Regions from separate parts of the Homo sapiens genome. Here region 2 is linked to region 1. The links come from fine-mapping of genetic effects on gene expression. A gene starts in region 1. The other region holds a variant in brackets. All regions are shown on one strand. Distances are from middle to middle.

Region 1 (5,382 bases):
CCAGTTACTCAGAAGGCTGAGGCAGGAGAATAGCTTGAACCCAGGAGACAGAGGTTGCAGTGAGCCAAGATTGCACCACTGCACTCCTACCTGGGCAGCAAGAGTGAAACTCCATCTCAAAAAAAGAAAAAAAATAAGTATAACAGAAAGTCAATGGTGGAATGAAAATGAAATAATCAGAATTATTGAATTAATCCAAACGAAGGCAGGAAAGGAGGAACAGAGGAACCGAAAAGGTTAAAGCAAATAAAACCCAAATTGCAAAATAATAGATCTAAATCCAACCACATCATTATTACATTAAATGTAAATGGACCCCAAACTCCAATTAAAAGGCATTTACAGGCCAGGTGCAGTACCTCACACCTGTAATCCCAGCACTTTGGGAGGCCGAGGCGGGTGGATCATCTGAGGTCAGGAGTTCGAGACCAGCCTGGCCAATGTGGTGAAACCCTATCTCTACTAAAAAATACAAAAATTAGCCGTGCATGGTGGCAGGCACCTGTAATTACAGCTATTCTTTCTTTAAAGCGGAGAAGGCATCAGGGAAGAGGGTTGTAGGTGGTGAAGCAAATGGTTACATTTTTGCTAGACTTTAGGTAGTGCCCAGTAACTCTATGCTATGCATAAGATAAGGTGAATATTCAAAGAAAATGGAGTAAAGGAAGTTAATTATACAGATATCTCAGGTGAAGGAATGATTGATCTTATCCTTGTTCTGCATCTGGGAAGATAAGCTTGTAACTGAATTTATCCATGTGAAATTTAACAGACTTTAGTTGTACCAGTTTGATTTAGGTTGCAGACTTAAAGTTATACAATTGACACGTCCTTGTTTTATGGAAGGATATACATCTTGAAAGGTTTAAGGGCCAGTAAAGAATTTACTATGATTAATTTGTTGAGGACAGTCATCCTGAGACTGAGATGCATAAGGCTTTTTTTTGCATTTTGAGGAGGGTCTGGCTAACATATAAAGTTTTAATACAACTATGGGAAGTAACAGCTATCCATTTGGGAAAAGCATTGTAGTGTTGAGTGACTTCAGTCTCCAGGCTTAACTCTCCCTTTGACATAACAAGTTGGGGGTGGGGGGTGGTTCTGAGATTTTTATTTTCCTTTACAGGGTCAAAGAGGAAATCATAAAGGAAATTAAAAACTATTTTCAGCTGAAGGAAAACAAAAGCACAGTAGCAGGCCAGGCAAGGTGGCTTATGCTTGTAATCCCAGAATTTTGGGATGCTGAAGCAGGACGACTGCTTGAGACCAGGAGCTCAAGACCAATCTGGGCAACAGTGAGATCCCATCTCTACAAAAAATTTAAATTTAAAAATTAACAGGATGTGGTCGTGCACACCTGCAGTTCCAGCTACTGTGTCTTCTACAGTTTAAAGCTGAGAAGATCCCTTGAGCTTAGGAGGTTGAGACTGCAGTGAGCTATGATTGTGTCACTGCACTCCAGCCTGGATAACAAAGTGAGACCCTGTCTCAAAAATAACAACCACCAAGAAAAAAAAAAAGGAGAATTCAGCTAAAGCAGTGCTTAGAGGGCAATTTATAGCCTTAAAATACTAGCATTGGAAAAGCAGAAAGATCCAGAATCAATCATCTTCTACTCTAAGCAACTAGAAAAAGAAGAGGAAATCAAAACTCAAGTGAGCAATAAAGAGCAAAATAAGGCAATGGACCAGAAAACAGAAAATCAATGGAACCAAAACATGACATTTTGAAAAGATTTAAAAATTGATAAACTTCTAGCTAGATTAGTCAGAAAAAGAAAACATACAAACTGCCACTATCAAGAATATCTGAACAAAGACAAGGTCCCTGCCCTCCTGGACGTCTACTGGAGGAAAGAAATGTCATACAATTAAATCTATAGTTACAGATTATGGTAAACTCTGAGAGAGAATTCTGTCAGGGAGAAGCCGCTTTTGGTTGCAGGAGGGCACCTCTTTGAAAATTACTCACCTTCCCGCCCTCCACTGGGAGTAAAGCGAGCTGTGCCCAGCTTCTCCCCGCGCTCACGGAAGCAGGTGGCGGCCCCACCCCACCTGACCCCTCAAAAGCCCCGCCCCCTGTTCACTCCCACGTGCCCCGCTGCCGCCGCCGCCGCCGCCACGACCCTTCTGCGCAGGCGCGGGGGTGGTGCCTGGCGGAGGCGCGAGGTGGGGCGCGGCCGGCGGCGAGGCGGGACAACCGCTGGGCGGGCGCCAAGCGTGCCCGTGCGCTGGTGAGGTGGCGTCCGTTCTACCCGGTCGCTCCCGTTCCGCGCCATGCAGAGCCCAGTCTCTGGCACCTGGCTGCTCTGATCTGGTCTCAGCGCGGAGGGAGCAGAGGGAGTCCATGGAGGATCCCTCCGAGCCCGACCGGTTGGCGTCCGCGGACGGCGGGAGCCCGGAGGAGGAGGAGGATGGGGAGCGGGAGCCGCTGCTACCGCGGATCGCCTGGGCCCACCCGCGGAGAGGCGCCCCAGGCAGCGCCGTGAGGCTGCTGGACGCTGCCGGGGAGGAGGGCGAGGCCGGCGACGAGGAGCTGCCCCTCCCGCCCGGGGACGTGGGGGTCTCCCGGAGTTCGTCCGCCGAGCTGGACCGGAGCCGCCCCGCGGTTTCAGGTGCGACCCGGCCCTGCCCCACTCCCCGCGCCCCTCCGGGCGGCTGCCCCTGTCGCCCGGCTCGGTCCTGTCTCCCGCGCGCGCTGGCCGAGGTGGACGGGCTTTCCCCGCTCGCTGGGCAGCAGCTCCCGAGCTCGGACCGGCGCCAGCCGCAGCCGCACCGCGGGCACCTAGCTTGCTCGCTCTTTCTCCGGGAGCTCCCTCTCCTAAGGCCAGTGGTTGTCATTAAACCGATTCTTTAGACCTCCCCGCAAAGTGAGTCAAAACTTCTAGAAACCGACACTGGGGAGAGGTTAACGCTGTAAAATGACGTAAGTCCTTGCTCAAGTTTGGACTTGACTTTTGAATTAAGAACCTTGAACTCTCAGGAAAGTTCCCGGAGTGGTGAATTTGCAAAGTGGATGACAGGAGAGAGATGGACAGCCAGAATATCCAGTTGCCACTGGGGCACGTTTCAAAACCTTTTTCTATTAAATGTTGTTATTATGAAGTTAGCCACAGGGGGCAAAAGCAGTTGAAAGTCTGTTCCTGCCCTCTTACAGTTTAGTTTCTCTTTCTTGATTTACTTCTAATACATAAGAAAACCAAAACGAAAAACCTCTTTTCGCTATTAAGCGGACTGATAACCTCAGGCGAAACAGGGCAGTTGAAATGATGTTGAAGGTTAAATTTAGGTATGCTGTGCAGGCCTGGATATTTATTAATAAAGTGAGTTTTTCTGGCGTGTTGAATGGAGTTAGACAAATGTGATGGAAATAGCAAGAGACTTGTAAGACTCTCAGCTAGAGGTGAGACAGACTTGTTTGTAAAAAGGCGATGGTACACCTCCCTGCTGGTTGTGAGGATGGATTAAATGAGATGTTGTGCACCCGGTTGGTTTATCGCTTCACACATGACAACTTAAAAACCACAGAAAATGGAAGTTTCTTTAACACTGCTTAGTTTTTTTTGGAATTGTTAGATTTTAAATGTACTGTTAGTGGTACACTAATGTGTCCTTTACAGTTTAAAGAATTTTGGATAGAATCGGTCACTCAAGTTCTAGCTAGAGGCTACATTCAGGCATATTCTAGAGTAAATAAATCAGAGAATCCCAAGGGGAGCAGTTTGTCTGATTGTTTAAGCTTTAACCAACGTCTGCTCCCGTTATAATGTTACCTGATGGATGCATTGACGTTTAACCAAACAACGTGAAGCTGAAACCAGATCACAAACGGGTCTGCATTTGCCTAGCTACATTGGCAATTTGGGTATATGTTACTTAGAATTTAGTCTGTAAAATAGCTAGCTTGCCTTTTTCTGTCCCTTACCTTGTGTAAGCTACCTTGTGTACCTGGGTTTTTAAAAGAGCCTAAAGCCTTCAAAATGCACTTGTTCTGTGAAAGTGAGGTGTTTTATAAACAAACAGTATTAAGGCTAGAAAAAAATCAAAGCGAGAGGTCAACGAGATGGCAGGCCTGTAATCCCATCCCAGCATTTTGGGAGGTCTAGGCAGGAGAATAGCTTGAGGCTGGAAGTTCGAGACCCACCTGGGCAACATAGCGAGATCCCCATCTCTATAAAAAATAAACAACAACAACAACAAAAATTCAAAGTGAGGATAGAGTATAGTGTTAGAATACAAATGGATTCTTAGAATTCCTACCTTTTTTAAAGGTAATATCTTACCTGTATCACAGTTTACAATTTGCTAAGATCTTTTTTAAAAAAATATTTTATTCTCCACTGCACTCCAGCCTGGTTCTGTCTTGAGACAGAGCAAGACTCTGTCTCAAAAATAAATAAATAAATAAATAAATAAATAAATAAATAAATAAATAAATAAATTTTATTCTCTGTTGGGTGCCATGGCTCATGCCTGTAATCCCAGCATTTTGGAAGGCCTAGGTGGGTGGATCATTTGAGGTCAGGAGTTTTCAGACCAGCCTGGCCAACATGGTGAAACCCTGCCTCTACTAAAAATAGAAAAATTAGCCAGGCATGGTGGCGGGCGCCTGCAATTCCAGCTACTTGGGAGGCTGAGGCAGGAGAATCGCTTCTGAACCCGAGAGGTGTAGGTTGCAGTGAGCAGAGATGGCTCCACTGCACTCCAGCCTGGGTGACAGAGTGAGACTTTGTCTCAAAAAAAAAATTAATTATTTTCACAACAGCACAGCAAGTTAGTTGTTATTCGCCATTATTCTCATTATGAGGATTCAGAATTAATAAACTGGTAATGACTGGTAGCTCAGGTCTTCAGAGGTAAATGGTTTGCCCGAAGTCAAATATCCAGGAAGTAATAAATCAGGAGGAAGCCTGGTTCTTTCTTCATCTTCTGCCCCTTTTCCGTTTTGCCATGGGTCCACAAGTGTTATAAAATAATTGTGTCTGTGGTTATTTTGGAGGTTTTTACCTTTAATAGGACTTTAAAATAGTTTCTGTGAAAACTGTTTAAAAAATTTTTAAAGACTAAAATGTTCATGATTGAGTAATTTAATACTTTTTAAGTTTAGTTATTTTTTAAATGACTCCATTAACTTCATTTGTCCTTTACCATCCGATTTCCATGAAACTACCTCACTAGTTCCAAGAAATTCTTGCCTTTAGATTAATATGAACATCATTTATGATGCTTAACTCTTACTTATATAAGCAAGAGGTTTATGTACTTTAGCCAGTGGAAGAATGTCATATGTCTGTTATCTTCAACAAGGCATTTAACAAAGCCTACAAACAGCATAAACCATAGTGTTGTTGGATCAGTGTCAAAGTGGAAGGATTAGTGCATT
Region 2 (5,382 bases), 29 kb after region 1:
TTCTTTGTGTTAAATTGTGACCTTTAATATGCTACAGATAACCAGTGAAAGTCTCAAAAATCAGGAGATCACTAGAGTTTTCTCATTGATATTAAGCCATGATGTCCATAGAAATGAAGTAACAGATTTTCTTGTTTGTTTTGAAAGACAGGGGCAATGATAATTGGTTAGTCAGATACGAAAAGCAGAAATGTGAAAAGGAAATTGACCATAAGGTAAGGAAATTTACAATTTTATATATATATATATATATATATATATATATACACACACACACACACACACACATACACACACACACGTGTATATAATTGTGTATAACTTGTGAATATTATATATATATATATTCAATTTCTGTAAAAGATTCCTTTAAGTTATTCTTCACCATTTCCTCCTTCTTTCACTTAATCCTTGGTTTTTAAATCTACTGTCTCTGTTTTTCTCACACTTTTTATTTTTGTCACTTGTTTACGTTGCATTTCTTGATTCTTGATTTTTTTTTTTTTTTTTTTTTAGGGGTGGGATTTTGCCGTGTTGGCCAGGCTGGTCTCGAACTTCTGGCCTCAAGCAATCCATCCGCCTTGGCCTCCCAAAGTGCTGGGATTACAGTCATGTGCCACCACACCCAGCCAGTTCTGTTTTTTCTTTTATTAATTGTTGGGCAGCTTTATTTTTTATTTCATATTAGAATAGAAGAATAATACCTGCCTAGTACTTTTTTAGAGTTTGAGAAATATATGGAATCCCCATATTTTGCTTTTATGTAATAAAGGCTTCTGGGATTTTTGTTCACCATGTTTGTATTTTACTAATTCACTTTCTTCTGAGTCCTTTCATTCAGTATTAGATAATACAATATTACCTAATAAATGGAACATGTGTGCTTAACCTGTGAATCTTGTCCACTGAACTTAAAAAAAGTATTAAATACTTTTGCTATTTATAAGAAGCTGGTTTTAACATATATAATAGACTGCATAGAGCCTCAACACTGATATGAGAGTTATAGATTTTAGAGTAATTGCTATCGACTTTGAGTACCAAGTTGAAGTTTTAGATATTTACATAAGATTTTTTTTATAAAATACTTTTACAAGTTTAAAACAGTTTGTACATTTGGGAAAGTTTTAAGTGATTAAAAATATTTCTTCAATATTTATAATTTATGTTCTCAAGTAATGACTTAAAGCTGTTGCATCATTTTTAAAAGTTTGTGCTTTTAAATGTTTATCAAGGATATTTAAAAATACATATTCGTAGCACTTAGCAATAAAAAGGAACAAACGATACAATAGCGTGGATGAAACTTAAAATTATGCTGAGTGAAAGAAGCTACACATAAAGGGAACATATTGTATATTTATATTTAAAAATTAGAAAATGCAAACTAGTTTCTAGTGACAGAAAACAGACCAGTAGCTGGACTGCAGAGGGACACAAGGAAACTTTGGCGTGGAAGTTTCACATATGTCAAGGCTCATCACATTGTACTTGTTAATATAGGAAGTTAATTGTGTATAAATTATACCTTAATAAAGTTGTAAATAGGAAAGAATAGTAGAAATAATAATAAATGGCAGTTGTAGCAGAAATGGGCTTAAAATACAAACATAAATGCTCATATGTATAAGCTCCTGGGCTGGGCACAGTGGCTCATGCCTGTAATCACAGCACTTTGGGACGCCAAGGTGGGAGGATTGATTGAGTCCAGGAGTCTGAGACCCTGTGTCTACAAAGAATTAAAAAAAAATCTTTTTAAAGCGCCACTTAAGGATAAAAGACTTAAAGATAGTAGAAAAAGTAAAATGAAATAAATTAGCCGGACATGGTGGCAGGCACCTGTGGTCCCAGCTATTCGGGAGGCTGAGGTGGGAGGATTGCTTGGGCACAGGAAGTCAATGCTGCAGTGAGTTGTGGTTGTGCCTCTGCACTCTAGCTTGGGTGACAGAGCAAGACCCTGTCTCAAAAAAATAAAAAAATTAAAGATAATTAAATAACATAAGCTCCCCAAATTATTTTATTTGTATATCTTGAGCTGTTAGATTTTGCTGAAAATTCTTTTGCTCTAAGTATTTTGTGCACTTTCAATGAGGTGTAAGACATTTGATATAAACTAAAAGAAATAAAGTTGGCGTACCTCACATCAGCCTTCACTGTAGTGCTTTTAAATTAAAAATTTTCTGTTTTACTTTTTGTTATTGTATCTAGGCCACTTAGTAATGGCCATCTATCTTTAATCAGAATACCCTTTTTTTTTCTTTAAAAAACACACACTTTTAACTTTATTCTGTTTTAATTTCTAAGTAAAGCAATTCCAAAAATACGAAGTTAACATCAGAGCCGTGTGAACCACCGTGGTAAAATAAAACAGATA[T/C]TCACAATAATTACCTCTAAAGATAGTTGAGCTTGATAAATTACCTTCCGCAGAAATACTCTTTAACATGAAAACCCTCTTTCTCCTGAGATCTTTATTTCTGTTATGGAAGAATACAGAAGTTAGGAACGGCCTACTGTATTAGTACATTCTCACACTGCTATGACGAAATACCCAAGGCTGGGTCATTTATAAAGAAAAGAGACTCACAATTCTGCATGGCTGGGGAGGCCTCAGGAAACTTACAATCATGGCAGAAGGCACCTCTTCACAGGGTGGCAGGAGAATGAGTGTAGGAGAAATGCCAGACGCTTGCAAAACCATCAAATCTCATGAGAACTCACTCACTGTCACGAGAACAGCATGGCAGAAACTGCCCCCATGATCCGATTACCTCCACCTGGTCCCACCCTTGACACATAAGGATTACAGGGGATTACAATTCAAGATGAGATTTTGGGTGGGGACACAGCCAAAAAATAACACCTACATTCAAGAATATCTTGAGGTTCCTTCTACTAGATCTTATATTTAATTATGGTCTTTGAAGGAGTTTCATTTAGAAACATTTTGTGTTTGATTTATTTCTTTGGGACCCTAAGAAAGACTAGGTCTTAATAAGGTGATTATTAAGGTGTTTAAAAAAATTAGTAATATTTTACATCATACATTTAAGCAATGAATCTAGCAGTAAATTATCTAGAACATCACTTTTTAAAGTCACAATATTTTCAAGCCTTTTAAAGAGAAAAAACTTGAAACCATTACTGAGTAATGGTATAATATGAAATTTTAAAAAATAGTGGTTAGGAAATACACTGTTTTTTCAGACAGTCTCTTCCATTCCTGTGTGAATTTGTACTTTTTCTGGTAACATTATTTTTATAGGCTCATCCGAGAGAATATGTTCTTAAACCTCAATAATTATTATAAATAATTTATCCTTTGGGAATATTTATATAGGTTCTTTTATCAACATATCATTTTTCTACTCTATAGGAATCAAAATGGATTGATGATGAAGAATTCCTTATTAAAATAGCTGCAATTGATAATGGTCTAGCATTTCCTTTTAAACATCCTGATGAATGGAGAGCATGTGAGTATTTAGAACCTTCTGTAGAGTCTATAATTACCTTTTTTCCAGAATGAGAAGGGAAAAAAATTTACAGATACCATAGCGGAGGAAAAAGTAGATGAAATATGATTATTCATTAAGGCTCAGTTTTAGGCATTAGGGATGCAAATGTATACTACAGGGTCTTGCTATGAATTTTTTGCTTATTCTGGGATGACTGGTTTTGATTTTTAGGTTTTGTGTTATCCTTGGAAAATGAGTTTAGTAGTGTTCCAGTTTTTAAAAAATATATAACATTGAAATTATTTTAATATTTGGTAGAACTATATTTTACGTTTTTCGTTGTATTCACTTCTAAAACAATTTAGGCCTGCCCTCCACCTGACCTCATTTTTAGGGAGTAGTGCTTTAATTGCTTTCCCAGTCTCTTTTGTGGTAAATGATTACGTTTTCTACATCTTCTTGAACCAGTTTTAGGCACTTTTATTTTGCTTAAAATTTTCCATGATTTCTTGAGTTTTAAATTTATGAGTATAGCATTTTATTAGAATTCTCTTATAATTAAAAAAATTCCCTCTGTGCGTATTGAGTATTTAGGGAGTTAAATGAAATGATTTCTGTAATTTGCCTTAAAATATTGGTGGTGTGGACCAGGAGGGATAAATAAAGCCAGTTTTGCAAAAAAAAATTGGTAATGATTGAGTTAACATGGGAGTTTATTATAGTTGTTTTCTGATATTTGTATGTGTTTAAAATATATGGGCCAGGCATGGTGGCTCACACCTGTAATCCCAGCACTTTGGGGGCTGAGGCTAGCAGATCACTTGAGCTCAGGAGTCCAAGACCAGCCTGGGCAACATGGCGAAACCCCATCTCTACAAAAAATACAAAAATGAGCCAGGTGTGGTGGCCGATGCCTGTAGTCCTAGCTACTTGGGAGACTGAGGTGAGAGGATTACTTGAGCTTGGGAGGTGGAGGTTGCAGTGAGCCAAGATGGCACCACTGTACTCCAGCCTGGGTGACAAGAGTGTAAGGCCCTGTCTCAAAAATAAAATAAAAAATATATAGTATGTTTAAAAAATCTGGCTGGGTGCAGTGGCTCACGCCTGTAATCCCAGCACTTTGGGAGGCTGAGGTGGGTGGATTACCTGAGGTCAGGAGTTTGAGATCAGCCTGGGCAACATGGTGAAACTCCATCTCTACTAAAAATACAAAATTAGCCGGGTGTGGTGACACATGCCTGTAATCCCAGCTACTCGGGAGGCCGAGGCAGGAGAATCGCTTGAACCTGGGAGGCAGAGGATGCTGTGAGCCGAGATCGCGCCATTGCACTCCAGCCTGGGCAACAAGAGTAAATCTCTGTCTCACCAAAAAAAAAAAAAAAAAAAAAAATTTGTATCCATGATATGTCTCTTTTAAATTCCTTCAATTTATTAGTGAGCCTTTTACTCATTAGGCTTGCCAAAGATTTGTCTATTGTTAAGCATCGGTCCTTCTATTTATTTAATTATTTATGCTCTTTTTCCCCAGATAATTGCCTTTTTATTTTATAGATCAGGCTTTTAGTTTGTTTGCTTTTTCTTTTATAGATTTATGTTTTCCATCATTATTCTTTTCTCCTATTATGTTCATGCTATATCGCTTTCCTATAAATGCATATTAGGCCTCATACTTTCCTCTGGGTATCATTTTGGCTAAATCACGGGTTGCACAGGTGGTACTCTATGGCTCTGCTTTACATACTCATATTTTCTGACTTTCTTTTTGACAGGAATAATTTAGAAGTATTTTGTTTGATCTTAAAATTTCTACGTCAGCTTATTTTAATTGTCCATTATTACTATTTCTAAGAAACTGTTCATTGTTATTTTCCAGCATTATTGCATTGTGATCTGTGAATATGGCCTGTGTAAATTCTGTTTTGCAATT

Which allele goes with the higher level. Positions count from the first base shown, and alleles are read on the strand shown. Sizes are in standard deviations (SD) of each study's normalised expression.
As copies of T replace C in region 2, the expression in prefrontal cortex of the gene that starts at base 2,216 in region 1 goes up (small effect, 0.21 SD a copy in BrainSeq).

The links. PIP is the estimated chance that this variant, and not a neighbour inherited with it, causes the effect.
Region 2: its variant is the best candidate, but not a certain one, in a credible set for the expression of PI4K2B in prefrontal cortex (BrainSeq, PIP 0.88).

What each region holds. Positions count from the first base shown.
Region 1 is chr4:25,231,818-25,237,199 of GRCh38, forward strand. It overlaps PI4K2B (phosphatidylinositol 4-kinase type 2 beta), which reads left to right and starts at 2,216. Exons shown (of 10, transcript NM_018323.4): 1 at 2,216-2,614. The coding sequence starts at 2,347. LOC105374535 (a long non-coding RNA gene) reads right to left here and starts at 2,048. Exons shown (of 4, transcript XR_925490.3): 1 at 1,972-2,048. RefSeq lists silencers at 2,006-2,315, 2,416-2,655, 2,696-2,755 and enhancers at 2,042-2,543, 2,544-3,043, 2,976-3,105.
Region 2 is chr4:25,260,377-25,265,758 of GRCh38, forward strand. PI4K2B (phosphatidylinositol 4-kinase type 2 beta) reads left to right here. Exons shown (of 10, transcript NM_018323.4): 6 at 148-215; 7 at 3,374-3,473. Among named protein-coding and RNA genes, the nearest start is that of PI4K2B, 29 kb to the left of the region's middle. The variant T/C (reference allele first, on the strand shown) is at 2,375.